Linked DNA regions of Homo sapiens: region 1 is linked to region 2. The links come from fine-mapping of genetic effects on gene expression. Tissue or cell type: prefrontal cortex. Region 2 holds a variant in brackets; the other region holds the start of a gene. All regions are shown on one strand. Distances are from middle to middle.

Region 1 (8,097 bases), 350 kb after region 2:
GAGGCCATCAGCCAGGGTCAGGAGGCATCCCACGAGAGCACACACTGTAACCCCATGCCCACCGCCCCCAGAGCCCCATCAGGGAAGGGCCAAAGTTTACAGCCACTCTCCAGGAGAGACCTCAAGACGAATTAGAGGAAAACTATGACAATGATTTTGTTTAATGATAATTTTCCTTTTTCCTAGCACTCTGGAAAGCTGCCAGTTTCTTTACAAGTTAACCATCAATCTGATGCAGGGCAGGTGAGCCCCAAAATTGGGGCTTAACCCTGGAGGGTTCATGGCTTCACCCAGGAAGGCATTCAAGGGTGAGCCAGTGGTGTTAGCCAGGCAAGTTTGTTAAAGCAGCAGAATCCTACCCAGCAACCTCTGAGGAACCGGCATGTGGCCTGGGGGACAGCCCCACTCCATAAGCTGCCCGATGTTCTGTATCTGTCCACGATGGTGATGAGACCCTAGGAGAGTTGCAAGTCTGAACACAGGGAAATCTTTAGAAATCCCCACGATCCATAAGATTGAAAACAATCCTCCTCTCTGAGAACTTCATCTATTTCTGGGATAAACCAAATCTGTGTTTAGTCACACGTGACTCCAACTGAGTAACTTTCAAGTCATTTCCCTAAGGCAGAAAAAATTCTCCATTATGCCAGCAAAGTGGCAAGGAAGAGCCAAGAATGCTTGATCCCATCCCCACCACAGGGAACCCTGCACGGCAGGAGGAGAAAGGACATCTAAGCTGGAGACTGGTAAGGTTTCAGCCACCCATGGCTAGGAAAGCATACACTGCCTCTGAGGGGGCGTGGGCAGCTGCAACACGGGAGTCACGTGGGAGGGGTTTGCGGGACTCCAGGCATCACCTCTTCACACCGGAGGCAACACCGATGGAGTCGTGAGAACATAGTCCAGGTGTGTCCAGAATTGGTGGGTTCTTGATCTCACTGACTTTAAGAATGAAGCACTAGGTCCTCACAGTTGACTGTTACAGTTCTTAAAATTGTTATGTCTGCAGTTTGTTCCTTCTGATGTTTGGACGTGTTTGGAGTTTGTTCCTTCTGGCAGACTCACGGTCTTGCTGGCTTCAGGAGTGGAGCTGCAGACCTTCACAAGGAGTGTTACAGCTCTTAAGGCAGTGTGTCTGGAGCTGTTCATTCCTCCCGGTGGGTTTGTGGCTTTGCTGGCCTCAGAAGTGAAGCTACACACCTTCCCAGTGAGTGTTACAGCTCATAAAAAGTGTGGACCCAAAGAGTGAAAGAGCAAAGCCCCAAACATGTGGCAGAACACCAACACGTTCCCACTGCCTGCTCGGGCGGCCTGCTTTTATTCCCTTATCTGGCCCCACCCATATCCTGCTGATTGGTCCATTTTACAGAGGGCTGGTCTGTTTTACAGAAAGCTGATTGGTCCGTCTTGACAGGGCGCTGATTGGTGTGTTTACAATCCCTGAGCTAGACACAGAAGTTCTCCAAGTCCCCACAGAGCACTGATTGGTGCATTTACAAACCTTGAGCTAGATACAGGGTGCTGATTGGTGTCTTTACAAACCTTGAGCTAGACACAGAGTGCTGATTGGTGTATTTACAGTCCCTTAGCTAGACATAAAGGTTCTCCAAGTCCCCACCAGATTAGCTAGATACAGAGTGCTGATTGGTACATTTACAAACCTTGAGCTAAACACAGAGTGCTGACTGGTGCGTCCACAATCCCACAGCTAGACATAAAGGTTCTCCAAATCCCCACCAGATTAGCTGGATACAGAGTGCCCATGGGTGCATCTACAAACCTTGAGCTAGACACAGGGTACCGATTGGTGAGTTTACAAACCTTGAGCTAAACACAGTGCTGATTGGTGTATTTACAATCCCTTAGCTTGACATAAAGGTTCTCCAAGTCGCCGCTAGACTCAGGAGCCCAGCTGGCTTCACCTAGTGGATCCCACACCGGGGCTGCAGGTGGAGCTGCCCGCCAGTCCCGCGCCGTGCGCCCGCACTCCTCAGCCCTTGGGCGGTCGATGGGACCGGGTGCCGCGGAGCAGGGGGCCGCGCAAGAGCCCACGGCAGGGGGGAGACTCAGGCATGGCGGGCTGCAGGTCCTGAGCCCTGCCTCGCGGGGAGGCAGCTGAGGCCCGGTGAGAATTCGAGCGCAGCGCCGGCGGGCCGGCACTGGTGGGGGACCCGGCGCATCCTCCGCAGCTGCTGGCCCGGGTGCTAAGCTCCTCACTGCCTGGGGCCGGTGGCTCCGATTGCGGGGCCCGCCGAGCCCACGCCCACCCGGAACTCACGCTGACCCGCAAGCGCCACGTGCAGCCCGGGTTCCCGCCCGCACCTCTCCCTCCACACCTCCCTGCAAGCTGAGGGAGCCGGCTCCGGCCGCGGCCAGCCCAGAGAGGGGCTCCCACAGTGCAGCGGCGGGCTGAAGGGCCCCTCGAGCGCGGCCAGAGTGGGCGCCGAGAGCGAGCGAGGGCTGCCAGCACGCTGTCATCTCTCACAGGGCGAAGCCCACGCCACAGGACGGGTCGGTTCTGTACCCGCCGGGGCAGGGGAGAGCCGCCTCTGGTGAGCAGAACCCCGGAGAAGGGACGACGCGGGTGCACCTCGCGGCATGGGGACACCAAGTCAGACGAACCCGCTGTGCAAGAACATTTTCCACACAGCGGCGCATACCCCCGCCCGGGGGCGCTCGGCAGCCGCACGCGGCCCTCAGAGCGCAGCCCCCACACGCCTTTACTTCTGGAAGGCGGAGACCGCCACAGTGAGGAGCTAAGCCAGCTGAGGCAACACAGAAAAACCCCCGTTCCTACCCAAAACCAAAAAGCGGGGCGCGGAGGCGCGCGCCTGCGGTCCCAGCTACCGGGGAGGCCGAGAAGGGAGGATCGCCTGAGCCCGGGAGGCGCAAGCTACAGTGAGCCGAGACTGCCACTGCACTCAGTCTGGGTGACAGAGCGAGACCCTGTCTCTAAAGGGGAAAAAAGAGCTAGGAAGAAGCGGGCTGCCTCTTAACTTCGGAGAAGTAAATGAGGAACTATAACCAGTGTCTACCGTTTAGGAACCAAACAAAAGCTGACAGGAATCCCGCCACCGACCCAGCCGCCCCAGACTTTGCCCTGGCCTATCCCGCGCCGCTCCTCAAACTAGACCCGCCCCGACGTCGCCCTGGCCTATCCCACGCCGATCCTCAAACGAGGCCCGCCCCCGATGCACAAGCTCCGCCCTCGTTGCACCGTCCTGACCCTCGGCCTCGCCCCCGCCCCCTGGCTCTTCCCGCGCAGCCGAATGCCGCGACCTGGCTCCCACCCTTCGTCGCTTCGCGCCGCATAGGAACCCCGCCCCTAGTCTCTCCTCCCGCCTATCCTGAGCGGCGCGCGCACAAATCTCTCCCACGGACCCGCCCACCCTGATCCTCAACCTGGCCCCTGGCCTTTCCCGCGGCGTCGAGTCCAGTACACCGACGCACGAGTCCCACCCCCGATCTCTCCCTCGGCCTATCCCGCGCCGCTCCGCGCAGGAGTCCCGCCTCCCACTTCGCCCGCAGCCTATGACGCGCCGCGTCGCTCCCTCTCCTCAAACCCGCTCTCGCCCGCGGATGGGCGCGCAGCTGTGACGTCACGGCGTCGTTGGTAAGGGGCTGGCGGCCGGGGAGCTGCGTAGCTCCCGGCCCCGCGGCCATGCCCAAGCGGAGCTGCCCCTTCGCGGACGTGGCCCCGCTACAGCTCAAGGTCCGCGTGAGCCAGAGGGAGTTGAGCCGCGGCGTGTGCGCCGAGCGCTACTCGCAGGAGGTCTTCGGTGAGTGTCGGGCGGGCTGCCGAGGGTCCGCTGCGTCGGGGCCTGGAACGGGCCGGGCCTCAGCGTCCCCTCTGAGGCCTGAGCGGGGGGCTGGAGGGCCCTGCTTTCTGGCCCCGCGTTCCCGGAAGCTGGGAGGCCGCGGGGACACAAGCTGGCCACGCCCAGGGCTGGGGTCAGTGAGGGGGATGTGAGGACCCCAGCGTTCGCCCACCCTGTCCAACAGCCTGAAAGAAAAGGGTCCCTGCCCCTAGCCCCCGCGCCCTCTTCCACGATCCCGGTTAGTCGCCGCCCTGCAGTGAGCGGCACCCGCCTGGTGCTTTCTCAGGACTGTCCCGTGCAGGATGTCCTGGGAGAGGTTGGGGAGCGGGGCGTCCTGCATGGAGTCAACCCGAAGAGTGCCCCTCCTGTCCCAAGAGGTATTCATGGAGCGCGCGGCCCTGCCAGGCACGGCGGCTTTCTCGGGAGACCAAAGGCAGGCAAGACAGATGTGCCCCGTCTCCCGGGAGCTCCCCAGCCTAGTTGGGGAGACCAGCAGGAGGAGTCGCCACAGGTGGTCGGGGCAGGCACAGGTTTGTGCAGGCGCACCTGCAGGGATGGCACGGAAGGCTTCTTGGAAGAACAGTCTGAGCGGAATCCTGTGGGGGCGAGTAGGAGTTAGCCAGGCAGAGGAAGGGAAGGAAGAGGGCGAGGCAGAAGCCAGGCAGCAGGAGAGCGAAATAGGACTCCGTGTGGCTGCAGTGTCCAGTTCTGGGTGGGATGTGAGGGCAGTGAGCTCCCAGGCCTTCTCTGGCTTTCTCCTGTGGATTTCAGGCGTGTTGATCTTATTGATCATCACTCTGACTGGGGTGATTAATACCCTGGGGCAGGTAAAAAGTGGAGCTTACCTTGCCTAGTGATTGGGACACAAAGTCTGCACCTGTAGAGCAGTTAGAGGATGACCCGGGGTGTGTGATTTACCTGGTGCCGCTTGTGCCTTGGGAATGAGGGAAAGACTCTGCCTCCCGAGGTTCCTCTGTGCGGTGTCTCCAGTGTGCTAGGGCTGTGAAAGCGAGTGCTATTCTGGGCCATGGGGAGGTAAGGGGAATGATGCCGTGGGAACTGTGGCAGGACCGCAATCGTGTGCCCTCTCAGGACAGTTGAAAAATTCAAACACTGTGCAGGCAAGAAGAGGAAGATGGAAATGGGGCCTGGCTCAGTATGGCCCTTTATTCTTCCCGAGTGTCCTGACCTGGGCGTTGGCAGGTGTGTGCCACTCACCGGGTCAGGTCAGGGAGGTCTGCTGGGTGCAGTGGGCCTTCCATGGTAAATGCAGGACACCTACTTTGAACTGTGTGACAGTTTCCAAATTCCAGGCCACAGCTGTTACCCTGATCTCTTAACCTCGAATTGTCCACAAGGCCTTGAGGACAAGGATTAGCCTCACCACGTGTCTGTCCCATTCCTTTCCCCTTATAGATGGGGGAAGGTGTGGGGGGCCAGGAGGAAGGTGCAGGGTGTTGTGGGCTGGCATCAGCTACTCCATGTGAGTTACCCTGTCACTATTATTGCTGCCCACTTCATGTAGAGCCACATAGAGTTTCTGGGATCTCTGCCTTTACTGTGTTATGGTGAGGTGCAAAACAAAAAACAAAGCATTTCTGGGTCTGGCCCTGGGCATCTGATTTTTCAAAGCTCCCCAGGTGACTGAACTGTGGCCTGATGGAAAACCACTGCTCCCAGGGATGGGTGGGTGTTCTAGAACAAGAGGTCTGGAAGGTTCTGGGATGCTTGTCTTGCCAGCAACTCTGTAGCAGGTGAAGGGGGTGTGCTCTGGCCAGAGGCTGTAGGCCCAGCTCCAAGCCTCTGGCTGCTTCCTTGGCAGGGGACGAGTTTTGTGAATTAGTGCTCCACAGTGCAGAGCTCCCTCTGTGCATTCCACAGAGCCTGGTTTCCAGGTGGGGAGTGCTGGGGAAGCAGAAAAGGGAGAAAGGGGACAAGCTTAGTGAGGCGAGGCCAGCCGTGAATTGCAGAAAATGAGCCGAGTGATAGGAGAGGGAACCCTTGCATCAGACACAGGTGGGGCTGCAGGGCCAGAGCCTTCCTGGAGGAGATGACAGCTAAGCCAGGTAAGGAAAGGACGCACAAGCATTCTCAGCATAGAGGCAGAGCAGGACCCAGCTCGCCAGGGCACAACACAGGCTGGGGTTACTGGGAGACAGAGGGCACACAGGAGGACGATGGGGTTCATGTGAGGCTAGAAAGACTCAATGGCCATGCAGGGGCTTCGTTGGTACACAGTGAAGGACGTGAGAATGATTTATCTTCCCCCAGAGAAGACCAAGCGACTCCTGTTCCTCGGGGCCCAGGCCTACCTGGACCACGTGTGGGATGAAGGCTGTGCCGTCGTTCACCTGCCAGAGTCCCCAAAGCCTGGCCCTACAGGGGCCCCGAGGGCTGCACGTGGGCAGATGCTGATTGGACCAGACGGCCGCCTGATCAGGAGCCTTGGGCAGGCCTCCGAAGCTGGTGAGTGGCACCAGCAGCCCTTTGTGGCTGTGGCACTGAGGGCAGGTGGTGGCACGAGCATTTTTCTTGATTTGCAAGGTCAGGCTTTTCCTCCCTGGGTAAGCAGGACTCTGACCCAGAGCTTGGCCTTCTGGCTCAGAAGGCTCCTGTTATCAGGAGGTCTCACATTCAAGACTGGAAGTTGTTAAACAGCTTCTAAGTACTGGGCCAAAAAAGCAGCAGAGACTCCCCGGGTATCCCGTCTGCTTTCCGCCTGCAGCCCCCTCAGATAGTCCCACAAGGCTGGAAACATGCCAGTCCCATCCCTATGCAGTGTGGGGTCTCAGAGCATCACCTGTGTTGCTGGTTAGAAATGCAATCCCCGACTCTACCTCAAGTCTGGTTGGTGTGTCTAGGAGGAGCCCAGGCACCTCTTTGTTAACCAGTAAGGCAGTGGGCCACACTGAGACCCAGATGGGACACATGGAGTTCTGACAAGCAACAGGGGAAGAATGGTCCTTCCAGCACTAGCCTCCAGGTAGCAGAGGGACCTGGTAAGGGAAAGAGCACTGAACTTGGAGTCAACTACAGGCATATCTCACCTTGGATCTCTGTAGTAAAACGGGGGTCCTGTGCACTGTACCAGGCTCACGGGTTGTCAGAAGGATCCAGTGTAGGTGGGGATGGGGTAGGCAGGTCAGAGCCCTCTGCCCTCAGGTATGCATGGAGGCAGGTAGCCCGGCAGTCCCGGAAACTCCAGTCTCCTTGCAGCCTGACGGCTTGGCGTTTCTTCCTCACAGACCCATCTGGGGTAGCGTCCATTGCCTGTTCCTCATGCGTGCGAGCCGTGGATGGGAAGGCGGTCTGCGGTCAGTGTGAGCGAGCCCTGTGCGGGCAGTGTGTGCGCACCTGCTGGGGCTGCGGCTCCGTGGCCTGTACCCTGTGTGGCCTCGTGGAGTAAGTACTTCAGTCCCTGGAGCTGCTGAGATCCCATAGCCCCAGCAAGCCGTGATGGGGGACGGGTGGGTCACCCATGTGGGCCCAGAACACACACGTGTGGCCCCTGATGCAGTGCCATCTGGCATTGCCTAACGGGACATGGTGGCAATAGATGCTTGGCCCAACTTTAGTGGTTAGTAATCCTCTCTAAGGGAAAGCTGAACCTCACAGATGACCTGCTCTGTATCCGGCTCTAGTCCCTGTCTTCAGCCACTTCCTGTTCTGATCTTTGAGCACCCCCACCTCCTCCTCCTCTGGTCTTTGAGCCCCCCCTCCCCCCGTCCGAGGAGCCCCTGGTTGGTGACACAGGTGCACACCGCAGCTTCACCACAGTCATGCGTGCCGTTTGGTTGTAGACCCTCTCAGGCAGGAAGTGGAGTGTTTGTGTAGTCTCCCATTTGTGGGTGGGTTTGCTGCAGCTGGCTGGATCCCGTCCTTACTCCTAAGGTGGGGAGGGGCGTTCTCACCCTAGGGGCTACTCACCTGGTGGATGGGAGTGGACAGTGTGGAGCCTGTTTGCCCTGCCCCGTGAGAAAGATGACTTCATCCAGACACATGTGGAACTGGCTCCATAGACCCAAAGCAAGCTTAGTCCAAACAATGTCTGAAATTGTCCATCTAAAATAGAAACCACATGTTACATCTCGAGTCCTTTCTCTCGAGCCTTTCTTCAGTCGGGGCAGAGGCCCAGACTCATTGGAGACGGAGAGCCCTGGGCAGGGGGGGCAGCACCAGGGAGAAGCGCCGCGTGCCAGTGATCGGCTCCCATGGCTTCAGCATGGGCAGGAGTGGGGTAACGCACCCCATCCAGGTTGGGAATCATCTGCAGGGCTAG
Region 2 (8,101 bases):
GATTGCGTAAATGTCCTCCATGGCGTGAGGCCCTGACTCACCTGAACAACATTCCCCAGTGAGCACGGAGCAGCAGCCCGCCCGGCTCAGCAGTGCCTTGCCCTGGCCCTTTCTCTCCTCGCTGGTTCATCTGCATTAAAGAAACAGAAAGCTTCCTTCGCTGGCCCGCTCATTGCCTGTCTTCTCTCCCTGCCTCAGCTGCGGTCAGGCTCCAGGTGAGCTGCACCTGGCCGTCTCAATTACACTGCTTCTCTGGCATCGGATAGGAACTCTATGGCCAACTTACCCACAAGGTGGTCTGCAATATCTTTGAATAAATTAATGATTGAATGAATGTCTTAGTCCATCCAGGCCACTACAACAAAACAACACAGATGGGGCAGCTTAACAGTGGACATTCATTCCTCACATTTCTGGAGGCTGGGAGTCCAAGGTGAAGGTGGCAGCAGGGTTGGCTCCAGAGAGGGCTGCTTCCTGGTCCCCGGACAGCCTCCTTCTTGCTGTGTCCTCTCATAGCAGAGAGAGGATGTTCTGTCACGGGCCCTCATGACCTCCTCTAAGCCTCATCAGCTCCCAGGGGCCTCACTTGCAAATACCATCGCATTGGGGTCAGAGCTTCCACATAGGAAACATTTGGTCTGTAGCAACGAGTGAATGAATCATTACAGATTTCTCTATAAGACCACCAGGTCTTAATGTATTCAAAGATATTGCAGACCACCTCTTGGGTAAGTTGGCCATAGAGTTCTTATCCAATGCCAGAGAGGCCGCGTAAATGAGACGGCCAGGTGCAGCTCACCTGGAGTCTGACCGCAGCTGAGGCCGGGAGAGAAGACCGACGACGTCTGAGTCGTCAATGTTGTGAAAGATCTCCAGAGTGATGAAATTAAGGGTATTTATTTCTTTAGTTGTTGCTTTTGTTGTAGCAAACAAAATGAAACAAACACACATGCACACAAAACGACCAAGCAAAAAGTGTCCGCTACTTGTTAAAGTGAACCTCTAGTAAAGTTGTCTCTCTTTTTGTCACCGAGGATGAGAAACAGAGATGGGAATTCTATCCTCATGGAAAACAGGAGGCACCCACAACTCTGAGCCCCTGAGAGTGTGAAGGCCTTGCCGAGTGACCTCGCTGCTCCAGGGCGAGGCGGAGGCCAGGCTGCGGGGCTGCACAGCCAGCCAGGGAAGCTCCCCGCCCCAGGACTGCCCTCCCACACACTGCAGACAGTTGTTTCGGGAAGAACTCACTTTATATGCACAAATAAACAATGACAGAAAGGAATGAAAATAGTGTCCACTGAAAACATTACAAGAAAAAGGAAGAAAATAATAGAAAAGGTAAAAAGCAAAGACACAAAAAATCCTCGCATTGGGGAAGATGATGGAAACCTTCTTAACAATCAGAAACTTAACGATCTAAATGAAAATGTCTTTCACGTAAAACAAAAGCCAAGACAGACTTCAATAAGAAACAAAAAGATGATAGGAGATTTCAAAAATAGGCAGGCAGAGCTCAAGAAAAGAAGCAGAATTTTAAAAATCACAAAATGAAGGCCACACTAGAATCAAAGAAAAAGAGAATAGATTCTCCTAAAACCATTGCCAGGGATGTGGAGTCAAGCTTGGAAAAAGTGAAAAAAATTCACCAGAAAAGAATAAAGAGTTGCGATGGTTTAGAGGAAAGGATAGAAAAGGAAAACACAAAATGCCGACACAACACACACATAATTGGTGGCCTTGCAGGAGAAAATCAAATATAAAAGAAAAATAATTCAAATAATTCAAGAAAATGTGGTGAAACTAAAAAAGATGAAATCTATGGATTAAGAGGGTATATCATGTTTCTACAAAAATTGGTGCACTTGATCAGCACTGAGACTTGGGGGTCAAACACGAAGAATTTGTTTGGCACCGAGGCAAAAATATGAAGGCCCTGACATGAGAAGAGAAGTCCAAGCTGGCTTCAGATTTTCTACGGCAACACCTCATCTTAGAGAAGAGGGAAATAATGCCTGCAAAATCTCCAGGAAAAGAAAGTATGAACCAAGAATTTTATATCAGAGTAAAATTTTAGAACAGAATAAAGCTGTTACTCATGCTGAATCATAAAAAAGCGCTTCTGAAAATATTCACAAATGGAGGAACTCTTGTCTACTGAAGTTCCTTTTAAATAAATAAATAGAGAATGAATTTTAGTCCACCAAAAGGCAAATGAACAGGCTGTGAAGGACTAGGTCAAAACAACTGAGAGACTTAGGCCGTGGAGCGTTAAGTAGTGTGGAGTGTGTCAGTGGAGACAGGCGGCAGAGCTTTGGTGGCCTGTGACAAATAAATCCGGACAGCTCCTCCTCTCCCTGTGGGTGCAGCCACTCACCCAGGAAGTCCACTTCCCTCCACCTGACTCTAGGCTGGCCTCATGGCTTCTTTGGCCAATCCAATGAGGCAGAAGGGGTGTCTTGTGAGTTCTGGAACCTGGGTCTTAGGGCGTGGTAGCTTCAATTTTCACTGTCATGGCAAATCCTGATGCCGGGGCGCCTTCTGATATGGTTTGAATAAAATCTCACCTGAAATGTGATCCCCAATGTTGGAGGTGGGGCCTGGTGGGAGATGTTTGGGTTATGGGGGTGGATCCCTCATGAATGGCTTGGGGCTGTCCCCATGGTAGTGAGTGAGTTCTCACTCTTAATTCACACAAGAGCTGGTGTTAAAAAGAGCATGGCACCTCCTCCTATCTCTCTTGCTTCCTCTCCCATCATGTGACATTCTTGTTCCCCTTCCACCTTCCATCATGAGTGGAAGCAACCTGAGGCCCTCACCGGAAGCCGAGCAGATGCCAGTGACATAATTCTGTACAGCTTGCAGAACTGTGAGCCAAATAAACCTGTTGTCTTTATAAATTATCCAAGCTCAGATATTCCCTTATAGCAACACAAAACAGAGTAAGACATCTTCCCTGCGCTGCTCCCGCCACCCCTTCTCCCCGGAGAGCAGCTTCTCGGAAAATCACCTGCACCTGAATCTTTGGCTCAGCATCTGCTCTGAAAAACTTGATCTAACACGGCATCTAAGATCCAAAGGAAGTTAGCTCAGCCTGACGCCAGCTTTCTCTCTAAAAGCACCCAATCCAAGCACATGGCCTGTGGCAGGATGTGGAAGCAATGCCCCTGGGTCTCAGGACAC[T/C]CAGGGTAGGCAGGTGGAGAGCTCTTAGTATGGCAGGAGTGATGGGGGTGGGGGTGGGGATGCTGGAGGTGGTGCTGAGAACACAGGTGGCACAAAGACCCAGTCCACTCCTCCTGTGACCTTTGCCCTCCAGCTCCTGCCAATCAACTTCTCAGTCAGTGTCTAGGCCCAGCCCTCTATTGCCTCCGTGCTGCCATGGCCTCCCTGTCCATCTCCCAGGCAACAGAGGAGTCGGTCTGAGGCCTCCAGCCTCACAGCCAGTGTAGTTGCATGTTAGGTACCACTTCCATCCTCGGCTGTCAAAGAACAATGCTCCTTATCTGAAGAATGTGGTCTGGAGATAATTAGTTCTAACGGGACACAGCCCTGTGGCTGCTGTGGATGGGGCTTTGTTGTGGCTCAACAATGCCACCATCAGCCCAGATGTCGTGCACAGGCTTGGGCAAAAGGCAGGTGACTGCAGACTCACAGGGGCTCAAGAAGCACACCACATGGGAGAGCTGTGGAGATTCACTAAAGGATGGAACTAAACAGATCGACAGAGACAGACTAAAAAACAGCCTCTTCAGCCTTTGTCTGCAGTGTGCCTAATGCCTCCAGCCACCAGCAAATCAATAACAATAATAACAAAACCATCACCAGTGACGACAGGGGGCCCTCATCAGGCACTCCACCCATGAGGCACTCACAGTAACTCGATAAAGATGATGCAAATTACATATATCCCTATTCATAGGTGAAGGAAAGGAGGTGGGCAGTTTACCTGACTTGCTCCCAGTCCTGGAATTCTGAGCAGTGAAGCCGAGATTCAAACCCAGGATGCCTGGCTGCAAAGCCCACACATGTGCACAGCTGGCACCATACCCACCCGGTGCTGCCCACACATGTGCACCTGGCCCCATACTCACCCTGTGCTGCCCACGCAAGTCCCCACTGATATGGTTTGGATTTGTGTCCCCACCCAAATCTCATGTCAAATTATAATCCCCAGTGTTGGAGGAGGGGCTTGGTGGGAGGTGACTGAATCATGGGAGCAGATTTCCCTTTTGCTGTTCTCACGATAGTGAGTTCTCATGAGATCTGGTTATTTTAAAGTATGTTGCACCTCCTGCTTCCCAGTCTTCCTCCTTCTCTGGCCATGTAAAATGTGCCTCCTTCCTCTTTGCCTTCTGCCATGATTGTAAGTTTCCTGAGGCACCCCAGCCATGCTTCCTGTACAGCCTGCAGAACTGGGAATCAATTAAACTCCTGTTCTTTATAAATTACCCAGACTCAGGTAGTTCTTTTTTAAAAATTTTTTTCCTTTTAATTTTTCTTTGTCATCCTTGTACAGGGACCATGCTAATGTTCTCTGTACCATTCCAATTTTAGTATATGTGCTGCCAAAGTGAGCACTCAGGTAGTTCTTTATAGCAGTGCCAAAATTGGCACCAGGAAGTACCAGGAAGAGAAGAGAAGAGACCTGAAAATGTGGAAGCAGCTTTGGAACTGGGTAACGAGAAGAGGGTGGAAGAGTTTGGAGATCTCAGAAGAAGACAGGAAGAGGAGGGAAAGTTTGGAACGTCCCAGAGATTTGTTGAATGGTTGTGACCAAAATGCTGATAGTGATATGGACGGTTAAGTCCAGGCTGAGGAGGTCTCATATGGAAATTAGGAACTTATTGGGAACTGGAGTAAAGGTCATTCTTGCTATGCTTTAGCAAAGAGACTGGTGGTGTTGTAACCCTGCTCTAGGGATCAGTGGAACTTTGAACATGACAGTGATGATTTAGGGTATCTGGCAGAAGAAATTTCTAAGCAGCAAAGCATTCAAGATGTGGCCTGGCTACTTCTAACAACATATGGTCATATGCATGAGCGAGGAGATTATCTAAAACTGGAACTTATATTTATTAATAAAAGGGAAGCAGAGCATAAAAGTTTAGAAAAATTGTAGCCTGACCATGTAGTAGAAAAGAAAATCCCCATCAGGTGCAGTAGCTTATGCCTGTAATTCCAGCACTTTGGGAGGCTGCAGCGGGTGGATCACTTGAGGCCAGGAGTTTGAAACCAGCCTGGCCAACATGGTGGAACCCCATCTGTACTAAAAATACAAAAATTAGCTGGGCGTGATGGTGCACATCTGTAATCCCAGCTACTTGGGTGGCTAAGGCACGAGAATCACTTAAACCCAGGAGGCAGAGATTGCAGTGAGCCAAGATCACACCACTGCATTCCAGCCTGGGTGACAGCATGAGACTCCTCAAAAGATTTAAAAACAGAAAAACCCATTTTCTGGGGAGGACTTCAAGCCAGCTGCAGAAATTTGCATGAGTTGCTGAATGTCAACAGCCAAGACAATGGGGAAAATGTCTAAAAGGCACTTCAGAGACTTTGGCGGCAGCCCTCCGATCTCAGGCGTGGAGGCCTAGGAGGGAAGAATGGTTTCATGGGCTGGGCCTAGGGCTCCACTGCCCTGTACAACTTTGGGACACTGCTCCCTGTATCCTAGCCACTCCAGCTTTAGCCATGGCCAAAGGGCCCCAGATATGTCTTAGATGATGGCTCCAGAAGGTGCAAGCCATTCAGTGTTGGTGGCTTCCATGTGGTGTTGAGCCTGTGGGTACACAGAGGGCAAGGGCTGAGGTTTGGGAGCCTCTGGTTAGATTTCAGAAGATGTATGGAAATGCCTGGATGTCCAAGCAGAAGTCTGCAACAGGCCTGGAACTCTCACGGAGAACCTCTACTAGGGCAGTGTGGAGGGGAAATGTGGGGTTGGAGGCCCCACACAGAGTCCCCACTGGGGCACTGCCTAGTGGAGCTGTGAGAAGAGGGCCACTGTCCTCCAGACCCCAGAATGGTAGATGTACTGACAGCTTGCACCACGCACCTGGAAAAGCCACAGGCACTCAGCGGCACCCCATAAAAGCAGCCAAGGGGGCTGTACCCTGCAGAGCCACAGGGCTGGAGATGCCCAAGGCCTTGAGAGCCCACACCTTGCGTCAGTGTGGTCTGGATGTGGGACATGGAGTCAAAAGACATTATTTTGGAGCTTTAAGATTTAATGACTGCCCTGCTGCGTTTTGGACTTGCATGGGGCCTGTGACCCCTTTGTTTTGGTGGATTTCTCCCTTTTGGAGTGGGTGTATTTACCCAATGCCATTACCCTCATTGTATCTTGGAAGTAACTAACTTGCTTTTGATTTTCCAGGCTCATAGGTGGTAGGGCCTTGCCTTGTCTCAGATGAGACTTTGGATTGTGGAGTTTTGAGTTAATACTGAAATGAGTTAAGACCTGTGGGACTGTTAAGAAGGGATGATTGTGTTTTCCCATGTGAGAAAGACGTGAGATTTGGGAGGGGCTGGGGTAGAATAATATGGTTTGGATTGTGTCCCTGCCCAAAACTCATGTCAAATTGTAATCCCCAGTGTTGCAGGAGGGCCTGGTGGGAGGTGATTGGATCGTGGGGGCGGATTTCCCCTTGCCGTTCTCATGCTAGTGAGTGAGTTCTCAGGAGAGCTGGTTGTTTAAAAGTGTGCAGCATCTCCCCCCACCCTTCCTCCTTCTCTGGCCATGGAAGACATGCCTCCTTCCCCTTTGCCTTTCATCAGGATTGTAAGTTTCCTGAGACCTACCCAGCCATGCTTCCTGGACAGCCTGCGGAACTGTGAGTCGATTAAACTTTTCTTTATAAATTACCCAGTCTTGGGGAGTTCTTTATAGCAATGTGAGAACAGGCTAATACACCCACCTTGTAGCATGCCTATCTAGTGCTGCCCACACACATGCCCACTTTACTGTATGCCTGACTGGTGCTGCCCAGACATGTGCCCACCCTGCTGCATTCCCGCCCTGGTACCACTCAGACATGTGCCCACCTTGCTGCATGCCCACCTGGTACCAGGCCCATGCCGACCCTGCTGCATGCCCACCTGGTACAACTCAGACATGTGCCCACCCTGCTGCATGCCTGCCTGGTGCTTCCCAGACACGGGCCACGTTGCAGCATGTCTGCCCAGTGTTGCTCACACACATGCCCATCCTGCTGCATGCTCACCCAGTGCTGCAGGCACAGAGACAAAAAGCTCAGTCCTGCATTCAGAAGTTTCTGGTCCACTGGGGGCCAGTGTGGTTGCAGAGCTGTGAATAGCGCATGGGACCCACGGGGAGGTGGCAGCTCAGAACTTCCGTGGAGCCAGGGATGTGGGTGGGGATGGCTTCCCTAGAGGATCGCATCCAATCGTGTCCATGAATCTGAGCAAAGTGAGGGGGCCCCAGGAAGGGCAGGACAGGTGGGGGCATCCAAGCAATGCCAGAGCAGAGAGGGGACACAGGGCAGTTCTGAGGCACCTGCGAATGAGAAAGGAAGAAGGAAGAACCACATTCAGCCTGGGCGAGCACAGAGGTGAGAGGATTTGCTAACAGTGAGCAAAGGACATGGAGTCAAAAGGCCTTTGGTTTTGTTTTTCCTTCAGATGCAAAAGACTCAAGCATGTTTATGAATTGAGGGTAAAAGCCAGAGGAGTAAGTAAGAGGATGCTGGGGGAGCAGGGGCTTGGCACAGGTTCTGCTCCATGGCAGCAGGAGGGCAAGACTTGGATCGCATTAGAGCTCAACTGTGTGTTATTTACAAGGGACACTTAATACATTTTGATGTACGGCTTAAAAATAAAGGACTGATGTAGGCATTTGCAGCGGCAAATGTTGACAAAAAGTGCCAAGGAGTGACAATATTAGTATCCGCGGAAAATAAAGCACAAATCATTAAGAAGGACAAACAGACCAATTTATATTAATAAGAGTTATTATACCCCATAAAGTTGTGATGTCTAATACACAGCCGATACACACGTTAGATGTTTATGTGTCCAACATCGAATACCGAAATATATCAAGAAAACCTGTTAGATATATTAGGTAAATAGACAAGACCCAGCTGTA

Evidence for each region. PIP is the estimated chance that this variant, and not a neighbour inherited with it, causes the effect.
Region 1: SIVA1 starts here. The variant in region 2 is fine-mapped to the expression of SIVA1 in prefrontal cortex (GTEx, PIP above 0.99).

What each region holds. Positions count from the first base shown.
Region 1 is chr14:104,749,541-104,757,637 of GRCh38, forward strand. It overlaps SIVA1 (SIVA1 apoptosis inducing factor), which reads left to right and starts at 3,607. Exons shown (of 4, transcript NM_006427.4): 1 at 3,607-3,779; 2 at 6,090-6,284; 3 at 7,064-7,220. The coding sequence starts at 3,662. It overlaps LOC107987209 (a long non-coding RNA gene), which reads right to left. Exons shown (of 3, transcript XR_001750915.3): 2 at 6,866-7,880. RefSeq lists enhancers at 2,633-2,722, 3,426-3,927, 3,573-3,622, 3,633-3,702 and a silencer at 3,103-3,472.
Region 2 is chr14:104,396,474-104,404,574 of GRCh38, forward strand. It overlaps the pseudogene RNU6-684P. Among named protein-coding and RNA genes, the nearest start is that of LINC02691, 180 kb to the left of the region's middle. RefSeq lists enhancers at 6,600-7,166, 7,167-7,733. The variant T/C (reference allele first, on the strand shown) is at 3,181.